Regions from separate parts of the Homo sapiens genome. Here region 2 is linked to region 1. Evidence: fine-mapped expression QTL. Tissue or cell type: NK cells. Region 1 holds a variant in brackets; the other region holds the start of a gene. All regions are shown on one strand. Distances are between the middles of the regions.

Region 1 (9,648 bases):
CCAAGGCGGGTGGATCACTTGAGGTCAGGAGTTCGAGACCAGCCTGACCAATGTAGTGAAACCCTGTCTCTACTAAAAATACAAAAATTAGCCAGAGGTGGTAGTGCATGCCTGTAATCTAAGCTACTTAGGAGGGTGAGGAGGGAGAATCCCTTAAATCCGGGAGGCAGAGGTTACAGTGAGCCAAGATCGTGCCATTGCACTACAGCCTGGGCAACAAGAATGAAACTCCATCTCAAAAAAGAGTTAACACATACTGTGTTTTAAAGCACATCATGATTAAGACAGGATGAAAAAAAAAAAAAGCCAAATGGCAAAGGAATCAATTTTTAAACAAATACAAATTTTTTATATACAAATAGTAAAAGTTTCACTATATATGCCTTAGCCTTGGATTTTTTTTTTTTTTTTTTTTTTTTTTTTTTTTTTTTTTTTTTTTTTTTGAGACGGAGTCTTGCTCTGTCACCCAGGCTGGAGTGCAGTGGCTCCATCTCGGCTCACTGCAAGCTCCGCCTCCCGGGTTCACGCCATTCTCCTGCCTCCGCCTCCCGAGTAGCTGGGACTACAGGCGCCCTCCACTACGCCCGGCTAACTTTTTGTATTTTTAGTAGAGATGGGGTTTCACCGTGGTCTAGATCTCCTGACCTCGTGATCCGCCCGCCTCGGCCTCCCAAAGTGCTGGGATTACAAGCGTGAGCCACCGCGCCCGGCCAACCTTGGCTGTTTTAAATTATTTCAACATCTCAGTCTTCCTGTCTTTCACAAAAACACAAATTGAGGTCTTAGCAGGAAAAGTCTATAAATTCCTAGTCGGAAGAAATAACAGAGAATGTTAAAGATATGATCAGTGTGTAAGTATTCTACAATTGTTAATTCAATGAAGAGAGAAAAGCAAAGTAAAAAAATGTTCTGGCTAATTTGAAAAAAGTGATTAATTTATGGTGTCTCTCTCTCTCTCTGAGATGGAGTCTCATTCTGTTGCCCAGGCTGGAGTGCAATGGCGCGATCTCGGCCCACTGTAATGTTTGCCTCCCAGGTTCAAGCGATTCTCTAGCCTCAGCCTCCCAAGTAGCTGCGACTACAGATGCATGACACCATGCAGCTAATTTTTGTATTTTTTTGTAGAGACAGGGTTTCAACATGTTGGCCCGGCTGGTCTCAAAAACCTGACCTCAGGTGATCCACACACCTCAGCCTCCCAAGGTGCTGAGATTACAGCCTTGAGCCACTATGCCCAGCCAAAGTGATTTTATTTTATTTTTCTGTTTTTATTTTTTGAGATGGAGTCTCACTCTACCGCCCAGACTGGAGTGCAGTGGCACAATTTCCACTCACTGCAACTTCCGCCTGCTGGCTTCAAGTGATTCTCCTGCCTCAGCTTCCTGAGTAGCTGGGATTACAGGCACCTGCCACCACGCCCAGCTAATTTTTGTATTTTTAGTACAGGCAGGGTTTCACTACATTGGCCAAGCTGGTCTGGAACTCCTGACCTCAGGTGATCCACCCTCCTCGACCTCCCAAAGTGCTGGGATTACAGGCGTGAGCCACTGCACCCGACCCAAAGTGATTTATTTTAAAACCGAATTTATTAGATTAAAATGTTACTCTGTGGCACATATTGCTACATCTAGAATAAAATATTTTAAATTTCATAGGTGTTTCAGAAAGACGGTATTTAATATTCCTAGACAGCATCATTACTTTAAGGATAATAAAGGTACTACCAACGTGCACATAATACCTCAAGTACATAAGCAAAATGAAAATGAAATAAGTTGCCCATTTTTAGAGACCAGTGTTAACACTTAGCCAATATTATCTTTGTCTGCATTAAAGTAGTATTAGTTCTCACCTCCTGTTGCATATTAATCACTTATATTTTTGAACTGTGGCGTAAAACATACCAAAATTTACCATACTCTTTTTAAGTGTACAGTTCAGCAGTGTTAAGTATATTCATGTTTTTTGTGAAACCAATCTCTAGAACTTTTCCATCTTGCAAAACAGAAACTCTATGTGCATTAACCAACAAATCCTCATTCTTCTGTCCCTGCTGTACCTGGCAACCACCATTCTGCTTTCTGTTGCCATGAATTTGACTACCCTAAATGCTTCATTAAAGTGACAAATCATATTTATCTTTTTTGTGATTGGTTTATTTTTCCTAATACAAAGCCCTCAAGATTCATCCATGTTGTAGCGTGTGTTAGAATTTCCCTTCCTTTTAAGGCTAAATAATATTCCATCGTATGTCTATCATTTTCTTTATCCATTCATTCATTGATGCCACTTGGGTTGCTTCCACTTCTTGACTATATTGTGAATACTGCTGCTATGAACATGGGTTTACAAGTGTCTCAGGACCCTGCTTTCAATTCTTTTGGATATATATACACAAGTGGAATTGCTAGATCATATGGCAATTATATTTCTAATTTTTTGAGGAAGCCCATCCCATTTTCCATGGTCAATACATGATTTCACATTCCCACTAACAACGTACAAGAGTTCAATTTCTCCACACCCTTGCCAATAGTAATTTTTTGTTTTGTTTTAATACTAGCCATCCTAATAGGTATGAGGAGCTGTGGGTCTTTAAAAATACCAATGCTCAGGTCCCAATCTCTGGAGAGAGCGCCTGGGAATCAGTTTTGTTGGTTTTTTAAAAGTTCCCTGTTACTTCTGATGTGCGGCCAAGATTGAGTACTACTACATTAAAATGAATTGAAGGTGGTTATCAATCTTCTACTTTCACGATTTTCATGTTACACATATATGGAAATATAGCACTTAATAAAAGTCATAGGCTGGGTGCTGTGGCTCATGCCTGTAATCCCAGAACTTTGGTAGGCTGAGGAGGGCAGATGGCTTGAGGGCAGGAGTTCAATACCAGACTGGACAACAAGATGAAACCCCCCATCTCTGCAAAAAATACAAAAATCAGTCAGGCGTGGTGGTGCACATCTGTAGTCCCAGCTACTCGGGAGGCTGAAGTGGAAGGACCACTTGAACCCGGGAGGTAGAGGCTGCAATGAGCTCAGATTGTGCCACTGCACTCCAGCCTGGGTGACACAGCAAGACCCTGTCTCAAAAAAGAGCTCAGGAGTTCAAGACCAGCCTGGGCAACACAGTGAGACCTCACCTGTAAAATAAAAAAAAAAAAAAAAAGAAAGAAAAAGAGAAAAATCGTAAGAACAAAGATGGAGCTATTCTAGGATGTCACAACTAAACTGGCTCTTATCCTGGCTTTGTAATTATTTAAAGCTAACCTACTTTTTAGGTGCCCCTGTCACTGTAACCTCCCTCATCCACAAAGGTTAACCACTCCAATCACTACAGACCAAGCTGTGACCATTTTTGAACTTTACATATAGTATTATTTACTATGTATTACGTTTTTGTTTGTTTTTTGAGATGGCATCTCACTCCATCGCCCAGGCTGGAATGCAGTGGCGCGATCTTGGCTCAAAAATATATATATGTGTATTTATTACACAATATACTTTCTGCAGTCTCATGGTTTCATTTTCTACTTTTTTTTGAGTCAGGGTCTTACTGTCTCCCAGGCTGGAGTGCAACAGTATGATCTTGGCTCACTGCAGCCTCAAACTCCTGGGCTCAAACGACTCTCCCACCTCAGCCTCCTGATTATCTGGGACTATAGGTACATACCACAATATCCAGCTCATTTTTTTTGTATAGATGGGGTTTTGCCATGTCACCCAGGCTGGTCTCGAACTACTGAGCTCAAGCAATCTGCCCTCCTTGGCCTCCCAAAGTGCTGGAATTACAGGTAAGCCCACGGTTCCCCGCCTCATTTTCTACATTTAATTTTTTATCTAGAATTACTTTCCACTGGTATCTTTGGCTACAGACATTCCCCCAGCCTTGATTTTTTAAAAAAAATACCTTGCCACACAAAAAACTTACACAGGATGTTTATAGCAGCTTTATTCATAATTGCCAAAACTTGAAAATAACTAAGATGTCCTTAAGTAGGTGAAAGGGTAAATACACTCTACTACATTCATGCAATGAAATATTATTCAGCACTAAAAAGAAATGAGCTATCGGCTGGGCGTGGTGGCTCACACCTGTAATCCCAACACTTTGGGAGGTGAAGGTGGGTAGACCACCCAAGATCAGGAGTTCAAGACCAGCCTGGGCAATATGGTGAAAACCCATCTCTACTAAAAACACGAAAACTAGCCGGGCATGGCAGTGAACGCTTGTAATCCCAGCTACTCAGGAGGCCGAGGCATGAGAATCGCTTGAACCCTGGAGACAAAGGTTGCAGTGAACTGAGATCCCACCACTGGACTCCAGCCTAGGTGACAGAGTGAGACTCCTTTTAAAAAAAAAAAAAAAAAAAAGGGCATGAGTTATCAAGTCATGAAAAGACATCGTGAAAGCCTGAATGTCGTTCTCAAAAAAAGGCAAAACTTGGCCAGGCATGGCGGCTCGCGCCTGTAATCCCAGCGCTTTGGAAGGCCGAGGCAGGTGGATCATTTGAGGTCGGGAGCTCGAGACCAGCCTGGCCAACATGGTGAGACTTCCCTGTCTCTGATAAAAATACAAAAGTTAGCCAGGCAATGTGGCACATTGCCAGTAATCCCAGCTGCTTGGAGGCTGAGGCACAAGAATTGCTTTAATCTGGGAGGTGAAGGTTGTGAGCCAAGATGGCCCTACTAAACTCCAGCCTGGGTGACACAGCAAGACTCTCTCAAAAACAAAAACAAAAACAAAAAACAACAAAAAAACACAAAACTATAGAGATAGTAAAAAGATCAGCAGTTGCTAGGGGTTTGGGGAGGAGGGAATAGGCAGAGCACAGAGGATATTCAGGGAAGTGAGACTACCTTGTATGATAGTATAACGGTAGATCCATTTGTCAAAACTCATGGAATGTACACCAAAACAGAAACTATGGAAACTATTAATGTTGGGTGATGTGTCAATGTAGGTTCATTGATTGTAACAAACGTACCACTCTGGTGCTGTACTAGTGTTGAAACGGGGTAGATGGGAACACTATTTACTGCTCAGTTTTGCTGTGAACCTAAACTCCTCAAAAACATAAAATTTTTTTTTT[T/C]TTGAGATGGAGTCTCGCTCTGTCGCCCAGGCTGGAGTGCAGTGGTGCAATCTCGGCTCAGTCCAAGCTCCGCCTCCCAGATTCAAGCCATTCTCCTGCCTCAGCCTCCAGAGTAGCTGGGACTACAGGCGCCCGCCACCACACCCAGCTAGTTTTTTGTATTTTTAGTAGAGACAGGGTTTCACCGTGTTAGCCAGGATGGTCTCCATCTCCTGACCTCGTGATCCGCCTGCCTCGGCCTCCCAAAGTACTGGGATTACAGGCATGAGCCACTGCCCCCGGCCAAAAATAAAATCTATTAAAACACACATACAAATCCTCTCCATGTTCAGCGCTAACACAAAAGTTTTTGCTGTCCCACAAATCATAAATACTGTAAAACATTCCATAATTCCATATCCCTCACTGGCCTTCCTCAGTTACCTTCCTAGACTTCTCTGTAGTATTTAACATGGCTAAGTACATAGTACCTATAAATTACCTATAAAGCCTTTTTGCCAAAAATGTGAACAATTGAATGTAATCAAGATTTTATTTCTATTTTTAAAAATTTTTTGGAGACAGGGTCTTGCTCTGTCACCCAAGCAGGGGTGCAGTGGCTCAATCATGGCTCACTGCAATCTTGAACTCCTGGGCGCAAGCAATCCTCCTCCCTCAGTTTCCTGAGTAGGACTACAGGTACATATCACCATGCCTGGTTAATTATTTTTTCAGGAAAGGGGGGGAGCCAGAGTCTCACTATGTTTCCCAGACTGGTCTCAAATTCCTGGCTTCAAGTCATCCTCTCACCTCAGCCTCCCAAAAGCGCTGGGGATTACAGATGTGAGACACCATGCCAGCCTAATCAAGCTTTTAGATATAACTTTTGTTTTACAGAAAATTCAGGGACTTAGAGCTGTGCTGTATGATGGCCCCTAGTTAACCATAACAATTTAAATTACCCAAAACTTAATAGAATTAAAAACTTAGCCACATTTCAAGTGCTTAATAGCCACATGTGGCTAGGAGCTACTGTATGAGACAATGCAGATATAGAACACTGCCATCATGGCAGAAAAGTTCTAAGGGACAGTGCTAAAATGGCCTATTTTACAAAAGTCAAGGTCATTACAGAAAATAAGAAAAATGACTCTACATTAAGATCCATGACATACAACTCAGGAAAAGCAGGCAGGGGGTGGGGGGGGGCAGGAAGAACCATGATAACCAAACTCAATTGGTTATTCTATACCAAATCTTGGTTTTAAAACATCAGCCATATTTCCAGCCAGAAAGGTGGCAAAAGAAAAAAAGAAAAAGATCGGTCATAACATTTTGAGACAACTAGGGAAATCTAGGGGATTGTTCATCTTGATAGATGTAATAGCAAGGTATACAGGAAGAAATGTTAAGTGTTGCTCAAAAAAACTTGTGAAGTCATATCTGTAATATATCTTTAAAAGGCCTGTGGGAAGGCTATATAGAAAAGCAAATATGGCAAAATGTTGACAATTGCTGATATAGTTTTTTTGTACTATTTTACCTTTCTGTACACTTGAAAATTTTAATAACAGCCTTAAATACACTGTAATTGAGGGCCACAGATGGCCTGAACATGAATGCACCAAACATTAACAAATAATTCTGATATCATTGTCACTGGGCAAAACAATAGCTAATATTTGATAATCTGATTATCTTCTCAGTGGTGAACTCTCTGCATTTCTTGGCTGGAGGCCCTGGTTTCTAATGTGAAGTGAAGCTCACTGTCCAGCAATATATGACTAAAAATTTTCCCTTTTATAATGTATCCACTGTCATTACCCATCTTACTGTTTCAATTACTTTAATCTTCTGTTTCTTTTAAACGTTTAAAAATGGGCTTATGTGGCTTTTTATGATACTTTGCAAATTTCTATGCTAGACAGCTGTCAATTTTACTATTTCACTTTCCCTAAAGCCTTTAATTTTAGCTCTTAATTTTTAATAATAAACAGAAGCCACCACAAGAGTCCTACAAAAGAACCCAAAAGAGGTTTTTGTTGTTGTTTTGTTTTGTTTTTAAGATGGAGTCTCACTCTGTCTCCCAGGCTGGAGTGCCATGGAGCAATCTCAGCTCACTGCAACCTCTGCCTCCCGGGTTCAAGCGATTCTTCTGCCTCAGCCTCCCTAGTAGCTGGGATTACAGGGAGGCATTACACTACACCCAGCTAATTTTTGTATTTTTAGTAGAGATGGGATTTCATGTTGGCCAGGCTGTCTTGAACTTCTGACCTCAAGTGATCCACCTGCCTCAGCCTCCCAAAGCGCTGGGATTACAGGATTGAGCCACCGCACCCAGACAATTTTCATGTTAATGGTGGGTCCTAACCACTTGTCTAGTGTCAGAAGTAAACATGCTGGTTAATTTAAGGTTCTCTCTAAAAAGCACTTACACTCACATTCCAATATGCCACCTTAAGGAGGGGAAAAAAGTACAGAGTTACCATTATACTGGCAACTATAATCTGCAGTCTAACCCATCTAAGTGAAAGTCCACTGTTTTTTTGTTTTGTTCAGACAGGGTCTTGCTTTGTCACCCAGGCTGGAGTGCAGTGGCATGATCACTGCTCACTGAAGCCTCGATCTCGGGCTCAAGCCATCCTCCCACATCAGCCTCCCAAGTAGCTGGGACTACAGCTGCATGCCACCACACCTGGCTAATTTTTTTAATTTTTTTAGTAGAGATGAGGGTTCACCATGCTGCTCAAGCTGGTCTTATTAAACTCTTGGTTCTCAAGTGATCCTCCCACCTCAGCCTCCCAAAGTGCTGGGATTACAGGCGTGAGCCATCACACCCAGCCTCCACTATTGCTTCTAATGTTTATAGTGAGTTGTCATTTTGTTATTTCCGCTTTCAAAACATTTTTTACCTGTGGATATATCTCTAGAAAGATGGGTCATACACGGTGGCTCATGTCTGTAAACCCAACACTTTGAGAGGCCAAGGTGGGAAGAACACTTGAGCCCAGGAGTTTGAGACCATCTTGGGCAACAGAGTGAGATCTTGTGTCTACACAAAATACAAAAAATAACTGGGCATCATGGAGCACACCTGTAGTCCCAGCTACTCTGGAGGCAGAGGTGGGGGGATCACTTGAGCTCATGAAGTCGAGGCTGCAGTGAGCCATGATTGCACCAATGCACTCCAGCCTAGGTGACAGAGTGAGAACTTGCCTCAAAAAAAAAAAAAAAAAAAAAAAAAATGCCGAGCACCGTGGCTCGCACCTAAAATCTCAGCACTTTGGGAGGCCAAGGCAAATGGATTACCTGAAGTCAGGAGTTTAAGACCAGCCTGAGCAACATGGTGAAACCCTGTCTCTACTAAAAATACAAAAATTTGCCAGGTGTGGTGTCACATGCCTGTAGTCCCAGCTACTTGGGAGGCTGAGGCAGGAGAATTGCTTGAATCCCGGAGGGGGAGGTTGCAGTGAGCTGAGATCATGCCACTGTACTCTAGCCTGGGCAACAGAGGGAGACTCTGTCTCAAAAAACAAAACAAAACAAACAAAAAAAACAGGTAGGAGAAGAAAATGCTAAGTAAAAAAAAAAATGTATCATGAGCAGATGAAATCTAATGTCAAGAATTCAATGTTACATAGTAACCACTCATTACAACTGTTCAAAAACAATGTATCATAAATGATAATGAAAAGTTCAGTTCACTTTGTTGAAGACAATCACACAATAGTGTAGCATCCCCTTGTTACATCAGTCTATGGTTGAATGAATAAATTGCCTGAAAACCACGTCTCTTGCCCACTCAATAACTCTCAAAATAACCTTGGGAACTCTGAAAAGAATCTTTTTCTTGCTGTCACCCAGGCTGGAATGCAGTGGCATGAACTTGGCTCACTGGAACCTCTGCCTCCCAGGTTCAAGCGATTCTCCTGCCTCAGCCTCCCAAGAAGCTGGGATTACAGGCACCCGCCATCATACCTGGCTAATTTTTGTATTTTTAGTAGAGACGGGGTTTCACCATATTGGCCGGGCTGGTCTTGAACTCCTGGGCTCAAGCAATCCTCCTGCCTCAGCCTCCCAAAGAGCTGGGATTACAGGCGTGAGCCACAACACCCAGCTGACAAATTTTTGAATTCCCTCAGTGATTACTAACTGTAATCAGTTATTAAATTGTGTTGCCCTAAGTGCATACTTCAATCTCAGGAAACAGCACAGCATAGAACTAAAGAGCTTGGATTCTGGAGGTCAAAAGTAACCTGGCCCTTGATGAGCTTATACACTAATTCCAAATCCTACACCATCAAATGAGCAGTCTCCAGTCCAAGGGAGAAAATAGTTTCTGCAAACTTAGATCAGGCTTCAATTTGGGCCAGAGGTAATTCATAGAAATGATTTACAATGTTGGGGTGGAGGGAGGGGGGAGGGATAGCATTAGGAGAAATATCTAATGTAAATGATGAGTTAATGGGTGCAGCACACCAACACGGCACATGTATACATATGTAACAAACCTGCACGTTGTGCACATGTACCCTAGAACTTAAAGTATAATAATAAAGAAAAAAAGAAATGAATTA
Region 2 (10,309 bases), 72 kb before region 1:
CATTTTAAATCAGGATTTTGAGTGACATAAAATCTTTAAGACTCTAAAGGAGGTAAGAAATCTGTAATGCTGGAATTCTAGGAATTATAAGATAGTAAGGGAGAATTTGGGGACAGGATATTGTCCTAGACCTTTCAAAATATACCAGATATTCCACCTTTGAGTCAACTAAGGGAACTGGGCTTTTAAAAACATCAATTTCTTGACCTATTTAGTTTATGAACTATTTCTTATAGCCCTGTGCTATAAAAACTGGTTTTCTTTTACTGCCATGATATGTACCACCCTTTTTTTTTTTTTTTTTTTTTGAGACGGAATCTCGCTCTGTTGCCCAGGCTGGAGTGCAGTGGCACGAGCTCGGCTCACTGCAAGCTCCGCCTCCTGGGTTCACACCATTCTCCTGCCTCAGCCTCCCGAGTAGCTGGGAGTACAGGCGCCTGCCACCAAGCACAGCTAATTTTTTTTTTTTTTGTATTTTTAGTAGAGACAGGGTTTCACCGTGTTAGCCAGGATGGTTTCAATCTCCCGACCTCGTGATCCACCCGCCTCGGCCTCCTGATATGTACCACCTCTTTTAAAGATGTTCATTAAAAAAAAAAAAAAAAAAAAAGTTTAAACATGTGTTGCTTTCATCTGTACTTATTTGGCCCAGTGGGGTCAATAGAGAACAGAACACTTCCCCTTAGGTAACTGCTATGGTCTGAATATGTTCTCCCAAAATTCATATGATGAAGTTTATTTGCCTCCAGAAGACACATCAACAAGGCACCATGTTGGACACACACAGACATGGATGTCACCAGACTCTGAACCTACTGGTGCCTTGATCTTGGATTTCCCAGTCTCCAGAACGGTGAGAAATAAATTTCTATTCTTTATAAATTACCCAGTCTCAGGTATTTTGTTAGCAACAAAAATGAACGAAGATAGTAACTAATAATTACATATTTGGGGCTCCAGATTTTCTTCCTAATGAGAAATATTTAGGTACTTAAATTATCCTGCATTCATATAAGCCTATTGCTCTGTGCATAGGAAATAGTTCATTTTCAGTTTCCATAAGTGCTCTACTCTGCCTTCTCCTCACCCCAGCCTCACCAAAATCTTCCTAATAACAATCACTCCACGTCTTTGGTTTGTTTAAAATCTCCTTTCCCTACCCAGTGTTGTATTTTGTCTATAGTAGATACTCTATACAAACTGTTTTGTTACTATTTCAGAAATTTGAAACATTAAAAGATACTTCTTTTAATCCTCAAAAAAATATATAAATTTAAATTGGTAGCAGGTAGGTCTTTTTAGGAGGAAAAAGACCTGTGATTCAGGAACATTTAGGAATATTAACTCTGGGCACATGATCAAAAAGTAGGGTCTGTTAAAAGTCATTACAAGAGGCTTGGCGTGGTGGCTTACATCTGTAATCCCAGCACTTTAGGAGGCCAAGGTGGGAGGATTGCTTGATCTCAGGCTTTCAAGACCAGCCTAGGCAATATAGCAAGATCCCACCTCCAAAAAAAAAAAAAAAAGCTAGGTGTGGTGGTAGATGCCTGTAGTCCCAGCTACTTGGTAGGCTGAGGTGGGAAGACTGCTTAAACCCAGAAGTTCAAAGCTGCAGTGAGCTGTGATCATGCCACTGTGCCCCAGCCTGGGTGACAGAGTAAGACCTTGTCTCAAAAATTGCCATTGTAACAGTATTAAGAGGTGGGACCTTTAAGAGGTGGTTAGGTCATGCAGGCTCTGCCCTCATGGATGGAAATAATGCCACTATGAAAGGGCAATTTCGGCCCCCTTTTGCTTCTTTGCCCTTCCTCCTCTGCCATGTGATGTTGCAGCAAGGAGGCCCTTGTCAGATGTTGGCACCTTGATCCTGAACTTCCCAGCCTCCAGAACTCTGAGAAAATCATTTATGTTCATTTTAAGTTACCCAGACTGTGATATTCTGTTACAGCAGCACAAAATGAACTGAGAAAATAAGCCAAGTTTTAATGTAACAATAAATGTTAGTTGGTAAGCTTACCAGAATTCTGGAAATCCATGAAGCAGCAGCATAAGTGGTTTGCCTCTTTCTCCAGCAGCAACATAGTGAAATCTTAACCCTGAATCCTGAAAGTAGAGGGCATGGAATTTTAGTGATGTTTGTGTTGATTGACAAAGCAATATATTTAGCATTTCCATTTCATTAAAAAAATAGTAACTTGCCTTATTTTAAAACATTTGTGTATTTACAATATCTTCATGACACTCAGTTGCCTTATTTTTAACATCAAGAAATATATTTACTTTTATTAATTTTCAAAAAGAAAAGCAAACCCCATGACCTATTAATAGGGTAAATTGACAGATTCACTTTGTCAACACTCCCTTGACAGTACCTTCTCTTCTTGTTCTAGTACAGTCAATTTATATATTATGAGCTTCTGAAGCAATGTCACAATTTGTAACTTTCATCTTACCATTTGTAACTTTCATCTTACTGATGTGTCACATTTCATCTCCCTCAAATGCTGCAGGACATGTAAATAATTCTAATCTGAATTTATATTTCTGCCATGTTTACATCCTAGTCATCTACTTTTCTCAGCTTGCCCGTCAAGAGCTGTGCCATCAGTTATATAATTCACACCTCCTTCTCTTATTTTTAGGTCTCTCCTTCCCACATTATTATTTTGAGTGTTGCATGTTCTGTTCCCCTTGCTGCCTGCTCATGTCATGTCAGTGTGCGTTTCTAATAAGAGAATGCCCTGAGTGCTCAAGACTTCACTCTGCATGTAGGAGACAAGAAAACCCAAGGAAAATTAAAAAAACATGGGAATGAGTCAGGAATTCAAGCAAATACTAAGCAGGCTGAATTGAGGAAAGTAGAGGGAACAGCAGGAATAAAAATCTCTGAAAGCAAGCAAGCTAGGAAACAAAAAGAACCAAAAGCTAAACACAGACATTGGGTTTTTATAGCAGGCAACTCAAGCAACTGAGTTTTCAGATGTGAAAGAATCATTTTGCAGATTCAGAAGATGAGGCCCAAAGATGGTAACATGAGTCATAAAATGGTTGAGAGCAGGGCTGTGACCAGAATCTCCATCTTGTCCTAACTCCCAGGACAATGCTCTTTCCACTCGGTTCTCTGTCTCTGGGGAAGCTCTTTAGGCGGCCAGAGCGAGGGGAAAAGTGTTTTATGGAATTCCAGATGGTTCTTATACTACTTTTACCCCTCAGGTTGAACAGAGATAACAAATCTGACTTTACCCTCAGCTGCACGATGGCTTCCTAGAGGTTCAATAACTTTTTTTATTGGTGGTGAGTCTTGGAGGATTAAATGTTATGGGCACTGCAATGGATTTAATTAACAGATACTTTATTGCACTGACTATGCATCAGGCATTGTTCTAAGTTTTTCGTGTTTGTTTTTATAAATATTAACCTATTTAATTCTCATGTCGACCCCAGGCAAGAAAGAAGTTCTCTTGCCCTTCTGAACTTCAGCTGCGGGGCAATTTAGCTCCTAACAGGAAATAAGGACTTGGTGACATAAACATCCCCTCTTATGAGGCTGGGTTTGAAAGGCCTGTGAGTCAGACTGCAGGGTGTATCACGGGAACTATTTCCCTTCACCACCTGGAGCCTCAGGAAACAGAATATTTGTGGGCTGTGAGGAAGCTTGAACAATTAGCGTCTGCAGGCATGGCTGGATTTACCTTTTATTCCATTCCTTTCTTTGGTCCCTGACTTCATAAGTATGCATTCCTCCCCACAACACACACAATTTACTTATTGTTTCATGCAACCTAAGTCGTCTGTGATCATAATAAACTCATGACTCCCAAAGACTGACTGTTTACTCTTATTATCTCTAAAATTGGGCAAGAACAGCCTCCTGAGACATTAGGATGCCACGAGGAACAATTCTCTACAGCTGATCTGAGCTCTAAAGGGCAAAAGGGTGACAGGAGACAGCTTCCCCTTGCAGTAGGAAAAAGAGCAGGTTTATTCTGGGTTGTTGTGGCGCCGGGGGGCAGTAATATAAGAGGCCCCTGATTAGAGAAGTTCCACATTCAGAAACCAATCAAGGTGCCTGCAAAGACCGAGTGCTGTTTATCTGTATCTCTCTCTCTCTCTCTCTCTCTCACACACACACACACACACACACACACACGACACACAGGGACCCAACCCCTCCTCCCCTCCTGCCAGGACACTAGGGGACGCTGAGCCAGCGTCTCGGAAGGAGAAGCCCGGAGCCCCCCACCCTCGCGGCGGTCACGCTCCCTCCCGCTCCCGCCAGGCCCGCGCGGCCCTTCACCTTGATCCGCACGTAGCAGTGGGTGCCCAAGGAGGGGTCGCTCAGGCACGCGGGAGGGTGCTCCCGGGCGGGCCGCCGGAAGGTCTGCGCCGGCCCCTTGCCGAGGCTCCACAAAAGTTTGAGCAGGTGGATGGAGGCGCAGAGCCCGCAGTAGCAGTAGACCAGGGACCAGAAGAGCAGGGACCGGAGCGTGAGCATCAGGCGGGGCAGGCAATCCCGCAGCCTCGCCATTGGGAGGCGGCGGCGGGGCCCACTGCCCTTCCTCGGGAGCGGGTGAGCGAGCGCCGCAGCGCGCCAGGCCAGCCCGCCGTCGCCTCTCGACGCGCGCCTCCCCCGGCCCGGGGCGGCCGGCGTTCCGTGTCACCGCGGCGGCTCCGCACACGCGCCGCGCCCAGCCCGGAGCGCGCAGGGGAGAGCCGGGCCTGCGGGGTGCGGCGGGCCAGGCCGGGGTGCAGAGCTTGGCTGTCTTCCGCGGAGAGCGAGATCCCGTTTCAAAATCGCAAAACTGTGGGGGAGGATGAAGGCGAGACTTTCCCAAACCATCCTGGGCACCAAAGAAGGTAGCGCCACTCAGTCTTCTTTGTTGTTCTCAATGTATCAAGCAAAACTATTTCTAAGCCCACATATTCGTGTGTCATAGTTCAGGGACACAGGTCAGCGACAAACTTCCATGCTATTACACCCAAAGAGATTCTTTAGAGTGCAAAATCACTCTGCACTCTGAAAGATACCAGCCTTCCTCTTCTCAAAATCTTTCGTGGAATCATAATTTCTGTAGAAATCCGCCTATGCCTTGCCTGGTTCAGCCACAGCAAACTTACAGAGAGCTGCAACCCCAGGGATACAACGAATGCTTCAACAACGTGACGCGGCAGAAGCCTGGCCAGAAGGCCACACACCTGAGAGTTCGTCGAAGGGCTGGAAGCCGTGAGAGTGACAGTCCTCGGTAGGTATCTCAGCCTCAGCACCGACATGGCCACTCTTGTCCTGACCTCTTCTATCGTCCAGTTCACTGTTAGAATTTCATTAAGCCTTTTCCCAATCACCGGGTCAGGTATTAAGTGTTCATTTTTTATGAGAAACTGTCAAACTGGTTTCCAAAGTGGCTGTACAATTTTGAATTTACTTCAGCATGTGTGAGTTATACAATTGACCTTTGAACAATGCGGGGGGTTAGGGTTGCTGAACCCTTTCACATCTGAAAATCCATGTATAACTTTTGAGTTCCCCCAAACTTAAGTACTAATAGCCTACTACTGACCAAAACAATTAACATATGTTTATGTATTACATACTGTATCTTTATAATTAAGAAAAATGTTAAAATCATAAGGAAGAGAAAATACATTTACTATTCATTAAGTGGAAGTGGATTATCTTAAGAGTGTTCATCCTTGTCATCATCAGGTTAGGTAAGCTGAGGAGGAGAAAGAAGAAGGGAGGTTGATCTTCCTGTCTTGGGGTGAGGGGGAGGGAAGAGGTGGAAGAAAATCCATGTGTAAGTGGACCTACACAGTTCAAACACATGTTGTTTGAGGGTTAACTGTATTTTGCTCTTTTTTTCTAGGGTCTTGAGTTAGGAACTTATTGAGACCTTTGCAATTTCTAATGCAATCATTTAGCACCTATACATTTCTCTCAGTACTCTTTTTATTTTATTTTTTGAGACGGAGTCTCACTCTGTCGCCTAGACTGGAGTGCAATGGCGCGATCTCCATCTCAGCTCACTGCAAGCTCCGCCTCCCGGGTTCACGCCATTTTCCTGCCTCAGCCTCCTGAGTAGCTGGGACTACAGGCGCCCGCCACCATGCCCGGCTAAGTTTTTTGTATTTTTGGTAGAGACGGGGTTTCACCGTGTTAGCCAGGTTAGCTCGTGAACCGCCCGCCTCAGCCTCCCTAAGTGCTGGGATTACAAGTGTGAGCCACCGCGCCTGGCATCTCTCAGTACTCTTTAATCGTATTACATATGTGTTGATATGTTGTATTTTGCCATTTGTTATGTATTTTTTAAAATGTCCTGTTTTAGGTTGGGTGCTGTGGCTTACGCCTATAATCCCAGCACTTTGGGAGGCTGAGGCAGGAGGATCGCTTGAGCTCAGCAATTCAAGACCAGCGTGGGCAACATGGCAAAACCCTGTCTCTACAAAAAATAGAGAAATTAGCCAGGTGTGGTGGTGCACGCCTGTAGTCCCAGCTACTTGGGAGGCTGAAGTGGCAGGATCGCCTTAGCCCTGGAAGGTTGAGGCTGCAGTGAGCCAAAATCATGCCACTGCACTCTAGCCTGGGTTAAAGAGTGAGATTATGTTTCAAAAAATGAAAAACAAAACAAAACAAAACAAAAAACAGGGCCGGGGGTGGTGGCTCACATCTGTAATCCCAGCACTTTGGGAGGCTGAGCTGGTCAGATCACCTGAGGTCAGGAGTTTTGGACCAGCCTGGCCAACATGTTGAAACCCCATCTCTACTAAAAATACAAAAAAATTAGCCAGGCATAGTAGTGCACGCCTGTAGTCCAAACTACTTGGGAAGCTGAGGCATGAGAATTGCTTGAACCCGGGAGGCAGAGATTGCAGGGAGCTGAGATTGCACCACTGCACTTCAGCCTGGGTGACAAAGGGAGACTCCGTCTCAAAAAATAAATAAATAAAAAAAAACAAAGATTCCTGTCTTCCTCCTTGCCCCATTGTGTTTTTAATGTGTTTAGCAATTTTTCTATTATTACTTTCAGTCCTCCAAACTCTTAACTCATAACACATTAAATTTTTAAGAGATAGAGATCTTGCTATGTTGATCAGGCTGGTCTTGAACTCCTGGCCTCAAGCAATCCTCTCACTTTAGCCTCCCAAAGTGCTGAGACTACAAGCATGAGGTACTGTGCTTGGCAGTCCATTATTGACTTGTATCTGATTCTATTATGGCCCAAGAACATACTCCACATGACCTCTATTCTTTTAAATTTGTTTTATGATCTGGGATATGGTCTATCTTGGTGAATGTTCCATGGTTGTTTAAAAAAAAAAAACGTGTGGATAAGAGTGTTCTACATTTGCCCGCTAGATCATGTTGGCTGCTTGTGTCCTACCTTTTTTTTTTTTTCTTTTTCAAGAGACAGGGACTCGCTGTTACCCAGGATGGAGTGCAGTGGCTATTCACAGGTGCAGTCATTAAGCACACTGCAGCCTCGGACTCCTGGGCTTAAATGACCATCCTTCCTCAGCCTCCCAAGTAGCTGGGATTACAGATGCATTCCACCACACCCAGCTTGTATCAACTTTTAAATGACAGACTTCCTGTTAAATTCATTCACATCAAATAAGTTCCTCAATTTACAGACCACAATACCAAAATCTGATGAAGATTAAAAAGCGATATAGACAACTTTTTGAATGAAAATAGTTTCAGCCCTCTCCCTCTCCCCCTCCCCCTCCCGCTTTCCACCGTCCCCCCTCTGATGCCCAGCGGAGGCTGGACGGTACTGCCGCCAACTCGGCTCATGGCAACCTCCCTGCCTGATTCTTCTGCCTCAGCCTGCCGAGTGCCTGGGATTGCAGGCACGCGCCGCCACGCCTGACTGGTTTTTGTATTTTTTGGTGGAGACAGGGTTTCGCCGTGTTGGCTGGGCTGGTCTCCGCCTCATGACCGCGAGTGATCTGCCCGCCTGGGCCTCCTGAAGTGCCGGGATTGCAGACGGAGTCTCGCTCACTCAGTGCTCAATGTTGCCCAGGCTGGAGTGCAGTGGCGTGATTTCGGCTCACTACAACCTCCACCTCCCAGCCGCCTGCCTTGGCCTCCCAAAGTGCCAAGATTGCAGCCTCTGCCCGGCCCCCACCCCATCTGGGAAGTGAGGAGCGTCTCTGCCTGGCCGCCCATCGTCTGGGATGTGAGGGGCCCCTCTGCTGGGCCGCCCAGTCTGGGAAGTGAGGAGCGCCTCTTCCCGGCCGCCATCCCATCTAGGAAGTGAGGAGCATCTCTGCCCGGCCGCCCATCGTCTGGGATGTGGGGAGCGCCTCTGCCCCGCCGCCCTGTCTGGGATGTGAGGAGCGCCTCTGCCCGGCAGTGACCCCGTCTGGGAACTGAGGAGCGTCTCTGCCTGGCCGCCACCCCGTCTGGGAGGTGAGGAGCATCTCTGCCCGGCCGCCCTGTCTGAGAAGTGAGGAGCCCCTCCGCCCGGCAGCCGCCCAGTCTGGGAAGTGAGGAGCCCCTCCGCCCGGCAGCTGCTCCCTCTGGGAAGTGAGGAGCGTCTCCGTCCGGCAGCCGCCCTGTCCGGAAGGTGGGGGGCAGCCCCCGCCCGGCCAGCCGCCCCGTCCGGGAGGGAGGTGGGGGGCAGGCCCTGCCGGGCCAGCTGCCCCGTCAGGGAGGGAGGTGGGGGACGCCTCTGCCCGGCTGCCCCGTCTGGGAAGTAAGGAGCCCTTCTGCCCGGCCGCCACCCCGTCTGGGAGGTGTACCCAACAGCTCATTGAGAACGGGCCATGATGAAGATGGCGGTTTTGTTGAATAGAAAAGGGGGAAATGTGGGGAAAAGAAAGAGATCAGATTGTTACTGTGTCTGTGTAGAAAGAAGTAGACATAGGAGACTCCATTTTGTTCTGCACTAAGAAAAATTCTTCTGCCTTGGGATGCTGTTAATCTATAACCTTACCCCCACCCCCGTGCTCTCTGAAACATGTGCTGTGTCCACTCAGGGTTAAATGGATTAAGGGCGGTGCAAGATGTGCTTTGTTAAACAGATGCTTGAAGGCGGCATGCTCCTTAAGAGTTATCACCACTCCCTAATCTCAAGTACCCAGGGACACAAACACAGCGGAAGGCGGCAGGGTCCTCTGCCTAGGAAAACCAGAGACCCTTGTTCACATGTTTATCTGCTGACCTTCCCTCCACTATTGTCCTATGACCCTGCCAAATCCCCCTCTCTGAGAAACACCCAAGAATGATCAATAAATACTAAAATAAATAAATAAATAACCCATTAGACTGAGAAGTGAAGTGTCAGTACAAGGACAGTCTACTAAAATTGCTGAAAAATAGCAATTATAGTATTTAGTGGTGGCACAGATATTTATATTTGGTTTTGTAGATATTTGTGTCAGCTATATCAAATTAATTAAATTAAACCAACAACTATTTAAAAAAAAAAGAAAATAGTTTCCATAATTATATTAGAAATTGAATCTACCAGTATATAATATGAATAATACAACTATGGAGGTTTAATTTCAGGAAAGAATGGTCCAACATCAAGAAATCTATAAACATAACTATATCGACATTTGTAGAAGAAAAACCACATATCAACAAATGCCAATAAAGGCATGTGGCAAAATTCAGCAGCTATTCCTTAAAAGCTAAATTAATCCAGGTAGCAAGACACTGCTTAAACATTACCATAACCAGAAAACAGTAAACTATAGTGAAATCCTCTATTTTAAGAGTTGGGAATGAGAAAGAATGATTGCTATTAGCTCTATTATTTAACATTATTTTTGGAAATTCAAGCTAAGGAAATAACCCAAAAAGAACCAAATAAATTTTAAAAATTACATAAAAATTGGAAAAGAGGCGAAAATATAGCTGTTTGCAGATTATATTTCTTTAAACCTTAAAAAATTAATAGAATACAATTTGGTAAGGTGTCTAGATACAAGGTAAGTATACAAAGTCAATAGTTTTTCCATATCCTAGCATTAACCAATTAGAAATTGAAACTGCATTCACCAGATTGCAGGAGAGCTCAACATTGTATCATTCCCCCATATTATTGCATATAATTAATTTTTGATAATATTCCACTGTAAGATCATGATAGTTTATTCCTTCTTCTATTAAAAGCATTTGGGTTGGTCCTGTCTTTCCTTCCCTCCTCCCTCTCTTCTCCCTCTTTCCCTATTATGATCCTTGCATATGTTTTGTATATTCTTGTACATGTCTCCTTAGTCTGTTTTGTAATAGCTTCTCTAGGTTATATACTTTGAGCGAATTGCACAGTTATGACTACAGAACTATTTGTATTAGTCT

Direction of the effects. Positions count from the first base shown, and alleles are read on the strand shown. Sizes are in standard deviations (SD) of each study's normalised expression.
For the expression in NK cells of the gene that starts at base 4,623 in region 2, allele C in region 1 goes with a higher level than allele T (large effect, 1.5 SD a copy in Gilchrist 2021).

The links. PIP is the estimated chance that this variant, and not a neighbour inherited with it, causes the effect.
Region 2: EPHX4 starts here. The variant in region 1 is fine-mapped to the expression of EPHX4 in NK cells (Gilchrist 2021, PIP 0.94).

Annotation. Positions count from the first base shown.
Region 1 is chr1:91,952,940-91,962,587 of GRCh38, reverse strand. All of the region lies in intron 1 of BRDT (bromodomain testis associated), which reads right to left. Among named protein-coding and RNA genes, the nearest start is that of BRDT, 8.4 kb to the right of the region's middle. The variant T/C (reference allele first, on the strand shown) is at 5,093.
Region 2 is chr1:92,024,299-92,034,607 of GRCh38, reverse strand. It overlaps EPHX4 (epoxide hydrolase 4), which reads right to left and starts at 4,623. Exons shown (of 7, transcript NM_173567.5): 1 at 4,298-4,623; 2 at 2,018-2,103. The coding sequence starts at 4,528. LOC124904218 (a long non-coding RNA gene) reads left to right here and starts at 4,221. Exons shown (of 2, transcript XR_007066222.1): 1 at 4,221-5,243; 2 at 7,404-10,309. RefSeq lists an enhancer at 4,423-4,924.